Linked DNA regions of Homo sapiens. The protein of the gene in region 2 purifies or fractionates together with the protein of the main gene of each other region. This does not show direct contact. Each region holds a gene or a part of one and is shown on either strand. Other genes may lie near its edges.

What was found.
Region 1: the proteins of LRRFIP2 (region 2) and TMIGD1 purify together in Homo sapiens (co-immunoprecipitation; one study listed by IntAct). This does not show direct contact.

The regions. Positions count from the first base shown.
Region 1 is NC_000017.11:30,320,453-30,324,275, forward strand, and holds part of TMIGD1 (transmembrane and immunoglobulin domain-containing protein 1 isoform 1 precursor), read right to left. Parts: intron 1-3,823. UniProt on the Homo sapiens protein: May control cell-cell adhesion, cell migration and proliferation, cell morphology, and protects renal epithelial cells from oxidative cell injury to promote cell survival.
Region 2 is NC_000003.12:37,167,920-37,171,742, forward strand, and holds part of LRRFIP2 (leucine-rich repeat flightless-interacting protein 2), read right to left. Parts: intron 1-3,823. UniProt on the Homo sapiens protein: May function as activator of the canonical Wnt signaling pathway, in association with DVL3, upstream of CTNNB1/beta-catenin.

The DNA.
Region 1 (3,823 bases), on a different chromosome or scaffold from region 2:
GAAAGTAGCAAAATTAATCAAAATTAATCAATGTTTAAGCATCTGTAAAATGCAACCTGGCATCAACTCTAACCGAACTGTTAAATAATAATGTTTAAACCTCAAGAACCAAATGAGTAACTTATTTATAACAAAATTCAAAATCTATACAAGTTATAAAAATTCTTTCAAAAATTTTATAGCAGAAAGCACATACAATGTGCTTTGCTTTAATATCTTTGATATGATATGGAATGAAACTCTCAAAAGTAAAAGTGAAAGCCAGGCAGCGTGGCATATCCGTAGTCCCAGACACTTGGGAGGCTGGGGCAGGAGGATTGCTTAAGCCCAGGAGTTCAGGGCTATAGCACCCTATGATTGCACCTATCAATAGCCACTGCTCTCTACCCTAGGCAACATAGTGAGACCCTTTTTTTCTTTTTTAAGACAGAATCTCGCTCTGCCGCCCAGGCTGGAGTGCAGTGGCTTGATCTCGGCTCACTGCAACCTCTGTCTCCTGGGTTCAAGCGATTCTCCTGTCTCAGCCTCCCAAGTAGCTGGTACTACAGGTGTACACCACCATGCCCAGATAATTTTTGTATTTTAGGTAGAGACAGTGTTTCGCCATGTTGGCCAGTCTGGCCTCGAACTCCTGACATTAAGTGATCTGCCTGCCTTGGCCTCCTAAAGTGCTGGGATTATAGGTGTGAGCCACCATGCCTGGCCAACCCCTTTTTTTTTTTTTTTAGAGATGGAGCCTGGGTATGTTGCCCAGGCTGGTCTTGAACTCCTGACCACAAGCAATTCTCCTACCTGGGCCTCCCAAAGTGTTGCAATTACAGGCATCAGCCACTGCACCTGGCAGGACCCCGTTTCTTAAAAAAGTAACAAAGTAAAAGTGCTTCAGTTCAACAAAGGTTTTAAAGTGACCTTGTCTAAGCCCCTGGATTCTGATGCCATCCAACGACGGGAAGGAGCTTCAGTCATGGCTTAAGTAACATTTTAGGCATTTAAAGGAAATTGAGCATGTGCTATTTATCGCACAATTGAGTTTATGGATTGAGGTGCAGTCAACAAATATTTACTGAGTGACTAATGTGTGTTATGCACTGTGTTCAGCACTGCAAAAAATAGGACAGGTGTAGAAGGCTCCTCTGCCTTCGTGGAGCTCATCTTCTAGTGAGGGAGACAGACATTAAACAAACAGACACTACAGATTAAGTATTAGAAAGGAAACAGGGTCATGAGTTAGCAAGTGAAGGGCAAAAACCAGGGAAGAGGGGAAGAAGTGACTTTAGGTAAATTTAATTTCAAAGCCCAATCCCTATATACCTTAAGATTATGAAATAGGGTTTATCTCCCCTGTCCCCATAACTGTATAACACACTAACCAGTTATTATTATAATTATTTTTGGAGACAGGGTCTCACTCTGTCACTCAGACTGGAGTGCAGTGGCATGATCATGGCTCACTGCAGCGTCGACCTCTAGGGCTTAAGAGATCCTCCTACTTCAGCCTCCTGAGTAGTCAAGACTACCAGTGCGTGCCACCACACCCAGTTAATTTTTTGATTTGATGTAGAGACAGGGTTCCAATATGTTGCCCAGGCTGTTTTGGAACTCCTGGGCTCAAGCAACCCTCCCGCTCGGTCTCCCAAAGTCCTGGGATTACAAGCATGAACCATCCCACCCAGCCTGTAACTACCTTTTTATCATTTCCTGCTCTGGATAATTTTGGGAAATAAATGGATTAAATTTTTGCCCTCTCTTAGCTGTTTCTAAAAATTATTCTCATGAAGGTATGGGTCATATCACCCCTATGGAGAAACTTTGCTCAGGGAGCCTTTTTCTAGTAAGCCCTGGTTCTGTACTAGCCAGCTCTGGGACACACCAAAGGCCCGTCAACCTTACTGGGGAGCCCCTCTATTTGCAAGATATCAAAACAAAGGGGAAGTAAAGGTGGGACAATAAGAAAAAGAAATCAGAATTCAGTCACAGGTTGGAATATTTTTACCAAGCCAGATAAAATGAAGCCACATGTGACAGCTCTTACTCTATTTTTTTATTTTTATTTATTTATTTTTTGAGACAGAGTTTCACTCTTGTTGCCCAGGCTGGAGCGCAGTGGTGCGATCTCGGCTCACTGCAACCTCTGCCTTCTGGTTTCAAGCAATTCTCCTGCCTCAGCCTCCCAGGTAGCTGGGATTACAGGTGGCTACCATCATGCCCGGCTAATTTTTTTTGTATTTTTAGTAGAGACGGGTTTCACCATATTGGTCAGGCTGGTCTCAAACCGCTGACCTCCTGATCCACCCGCCTCGGCCTCCCAAAATGCTGGGATTACAGGCGTGAGCCGCTGCACCTGGCTGACAGCTCTTATTCTATACACAAACCGAAGTAAACTACCTTACCCATTGGCTTGCTTTGGATTCCAAATTTCTGTTGAAAGTGACTTTGGTCGGGGCATGGTGGTTCATGCCTGTAACCCCAGCACTTTGGGAAGCTGAGGTGGCAGATTGCTTGAGCCCAGGAATTCAAGACCAGCCTGATCCACATGGCAAGACCTCCTCTCTACAAAAACAATTTTTTTGATTAGCTGGTTCTGATGGCACGCACCTGTCCCAGCTATTCAGGAGGCTGAAGTGGAAAGATCGCTTGAGCCTGGGGGGATGAGGCTGCAGTGAACTATGATTACGCTACTGCACTCCAGCCTGGGTGGCAGAGCGAGACCCTGTCTCCAAAAAAATAAAAGAAAAAGAAAGAAAAAAGAGACTTTGGCAAGGGTAATTACATAACTGCCCCTCTCCCCTTGTCCTGTTTTATGGTCTCATTTGTAACCAGACCTGATATTTCCCTCCTATATTCATCATGGTTAAATAATCCCAACACATGGGCTAAATCTTGTGCTCAAGAAAAGATCTGTGATGTCGTTTGTAGCTTTGCATGGCCTCATTTAGGTACTTCCTCACTGAGCCGTGAAGCCAGGTGAGGGCTCATGAAAATCTTGGCATTTAGCCCAAGCCCCAGCAGCAGAGCATTTATGCCACCAGCCGTGGGAAGTAGCTAAGCAAGAAGAAATAAGAAAAACAAGTTGGTTTGGAAGAGCCCCACCCAAAACAAGTTTCTGCCCACCTGAAAGCCAATTTGCTAAGCTAGCATCCTGATTGCCACATAAGCTGTACTTTTTTTTAATGTGACACAGAGCAATTATGATTTCTTCTTAACCAGGAGGGATATAATTCCCTGGCCTGCAAGTGTGGTGTTCATAGTCAGGATGGCAGGGCATGAGGCCCACCCTTCCATGCTTTTGTGGTCTTGGGGGAGGTAAATAACCACAAAGCTTTTTCACTGCTTCTATCTCATGGGTATTCAGGATATTTGTGGGTTTGGTTTTTAAAACAAGTAGCCCCTGAGCAATTGTTAGTGCTCCGCAGGACGAATTACTGATCATTCCAGGAATCACAGTGATGGGCATTCAACCACCAGTAAGTCTTCTTCCCCACTAGCCACTCTTTTCATATCCCATAACTCTTCCCCTCAAGGGGAAGCAAATAAGATGTCCTATGGTTACATCACCACAACACTTCTGGCAGGGGTTCAGCTGGCTTCCTGGTGACTGACAAGACTGGCAATAAGTGAGTACAGGGAGGCAAATGACAAAGTGAGTAATGTTCTAACAAGATATGGGAGTCTCAGCTTGTTGGGCTGCTCCTGGTGTGCTAGCATGAGAGCAGACCATGTGTGAATGAGCATTTTTGGCATCTGCTACCCCAGGTATTTTGCCTTTCTCTTTTTGTATGAGCAAGAAATATGAGGAGGGAAAACCCCACAGAGCATCATTTGT
Region 2 (3,823 bases):
GAGCTGTGGTCGGGCCATTGCATTCCAGTCTTGGTGACAGAGTGAGACCCTGGCTCAACATAAATAAAAATCAATCAATAAGAAAACAGAAAATAGTAAATGTTGGCAAGGATGTGGAGAAACTGGAACCCTTGTGCATTGCTGGTGGTAATGTAAAATGGTATAGCCACTGTGGAAAATAGTATGGTGGTTTCTCAAAATATTAAGCATAGAATTACCAAATGAAATTTGGTAATTATCAAATTACTAGCAATTCCACTTCTGGGTACATACACAAAAGAATTGAATGTGGCACTCAAACAGACATTTGCATACTCATATTCATGGTGGCACTATTCCCAAAAGCAGAAAGATGGAAACAACCCATCTATCAAAAGATGATTAAACAATATGGTATAAACATACGAAGGAATATTTTTCAGCCTTAAAACAAATGAAATTCTGATACATGCTATGACATGGATGAATCTTGAAGACATCATGCTAAGAGAAATGAGCCAGACACAAAGACAAATATTACATAATTCCATTTATACGAGGTACCTGGAGTACACAAATTCATAGAGTCAAAAAGTAGAACAATGGTTACCAAGGGCTATGGGCATGAGGTGATATTGTTTAATGGGCAGAGCTTGTTTAGGATGATGAAAAAGTTAGGGAGATGGATAGAGGTGATAGTTACACAATAATGTAAATGTACTTTATACCACCGAATTGTACACTTAAAAATGGTTTAAATGATAAATTTTAAGTTATGTACACAGTCATGTGCTGCATAAGGATGTTCCAGTCAACAATGGATTACACATATTACAGTGGTCCCATAAGATTATAATGGAGCTGTCCTATACACGTGTGCCCTTTTAAGAGATGGGGCCTCACTATGTTGCCCAGGCTGGAACGCAGTGCCTATTCATAGATGTGCTCATAGCACACTACAGCCTAGAACTCCTGATCTCAAGTGATCCTCCTACCTCAGCCTGAGTACCTGGAATTACAGGTGCACACCACCATGCCTGGCCTATTTTCTAATCTTTTATATCATATTTTAACTGTATCTTTTCTATGTTTAGATACACGAAAATTTACCACTGTGTTATAATTGTCTACAGTTATAGTATTCAGTACAGTGACATGCTGCACAAGTTTATGGCCCAGGAACCACAGACTATACCATATAGTCTAGGTGTGTAGTAGGCTATACTGTCCAGGTTAGTGTAAGTATACTCTATGATGTTTGCTTGACAAAATTACCTAATGATGCATTTCCCAGAACATATTCCTGTCATTAAGCAACAAATGACTGTATTTTACCATAATAAAAATATTTTTAAAAAAGGTCAACAGAGTAAATTTTATGTTATCTATATTGTACCACAATTTTAAAAACAAAACAAACTTTATTTGATTGCAAAGGATGAATCTGGCAAGACAAGAACAATGCCCTCTCATTTCCTTGACTGTTCACCTAGATACAGCATTATCTGTGACAAGGGAAAAAACATCTAATCTAAAGCTGAATTTTTTTCTACATTTAGTCCTATAATCCTTAGGTCACTTAACTGGGATACTCACTTTTTAAAAAAAGCAATGCTATATATTCAGTTTGTTCATGATTTAAGCCATTTAACAGGGAAATAAATATTTTAACATCCTAATCCTCTGCATACAGTACGGTATACTCTAACTTACAAAACAGAAAGCCAAAAGATTTCTTCTAGCTGTTAATATATTTCTACTTAGGAAAGTGGGCATGTAAGGAACAACATGCTCAGAACAGTAACATAAAAATTAAATTTGCTTCCCTAAAGCAGTAAAGATATCTGTTATATCAAAAGTAGTTAAAATGTGGTAATGAAGGAACACTAAGATATACAGGGTTCAAAATGAAAACAATGGAAAAAGATAATCCATGATTCTTTAATGAAGGTGTTTATATTCCACCTCTGAGAAAGCACCCTGGTATGTATTCCAAGGCTTTTCCCAGCTCTTTACCACTTTCTTTCACTGCTGCTTTTTATTTCTTTTCTTTTTCTTTTTTTTCCCGAGGAGGAAAGGAAGGCAGAGACAGAGAAGGGAAAATAAGATAATGGGAATAAACTGATAAGGAAGAAAGAAAAACTAGTTTATTTTTTCTCCTCACACTGAATCCTAAATACATTATCATCATCATCATTCTCATCATCATAAATGTGAACAGCTGCAAATAACTGAAGGCAAAGGAAAACTAAATTTCCTCCAGTCACAACCTAATCTAAAGCAAAAAAGTGGGGGTGGGGAGGTCCATCTGCAGGCTTGCATCTGTAAATTAAGTTTGTATGCTGAATTCTTCAAACAATCTTGACCGTAATACAAAGCTGCTGTTAAATATGGTGACATGAACCTTGGTCTAAGGGTGGAACACTAAGTTCTTTCAACAGCTTTCTAGCCTAAGAAGTGACATCAGTTAAAGAACTTTAAACCCAAGTGTTTCATTCACTAAGTATAAACAAATCAAGGTTTTCATAAGACACCACATAGTACAAACTAAGAGTTTAAAGATATAACTTCATGATACTATATAGTACCACAGGAAAAGCAGAATGAGAATTTGGGAAGAAGCTAATTTATCTATCTGAACTTAAAATAATCCTGTAGCATAGTCCATTATTCCAAGAGTCCTTTTGATCTTAACGACAAATACGAAGGTCTCTGAATTGGACTGCTATTTTAACTGGGGCCCTCCCTATGCCAGTAACAATAATGCTTTTTCCCTAATGTAAAACATTTGACCGATTCTTGGCAAACACTCTCATATAACCAGAAGATAACATCAATGCTGGCACAATCCTATGCTCTTTCTTGTGCACCTTTTTCTAAAAACTTTCCTCCTGGACGGGCGCAGTGGCTCATGCTTGTAATCCCAGCAATTTGGGAGGCCAAGGTGGGTGAACGATGTGAGCCCAGGAGTTAGAGACCAGCGTGGGCAACATGCGGACACCCCGTTTCTACAAAAAATACAAAAATTGGCCCTGTGTGATGATGTATGCATGTAGTCTCAGCTACTTGGGAGGCTGAGGTGGGAGAATCACCCGAGCCCAGGAAGTCGAGGCTGCAGTGATCTGTGTTCATACCACTGGACTCCAGCGTGGGCATCAGAGTGAGACCCTGTCTCAAAACAAACACACAAACAAACAAAACCTTTATTCCTTAGCTTTCCTTAATAAGAGGAAGAAGCAGGGGAGGAGGAGGTAGCACTAAAAACTTGGATCCTCGGATATACGGGCTAAGTAGTTGTTCACCCCAAAACCTAGCCTTAATCTTCTGAAGGCAAAATGTCCTTTATAACTCCCCCTTCTGTGCTTGCCACTGATCCTAAACCGCAGGCCTTCCTGACTTGCAAGAGGACCAGGCCAGATTATGGTTATGTGGTAGGTTCTGTCAGGCAAGCTTTGACAAGGTCTCAAAATAGACCCTGGGCACAAGCCAGGGAAGCTGCCACTCATGAGTTCCGACTTCATCAAACTATAGCCCTTCAGTATGTAATTTTTTTTTTTTCTCTCTAGTGTCTCTCTCATTTCAAAAAGGCAAAGAATCCTGAACCTCCTCCTGGCCACAAGTAACCTATATAACATCAAACCTAAGCCTCCTTTATTCTGTTTACAAAAACTTTGCAGAATAAAGATTGAATCTGTACCTCCTTCCTGCCTTGAGAAAGTAATCCATCAAATAGCACTCTAGTTTGCAAAAGGATTTTTGGATCTCAAACTCCATAGAGGTTTATTTTATTATGTATAGATTAGGATGTGGAAGGTAAAGGAAAAAAGGAGGTAGATTATTTACT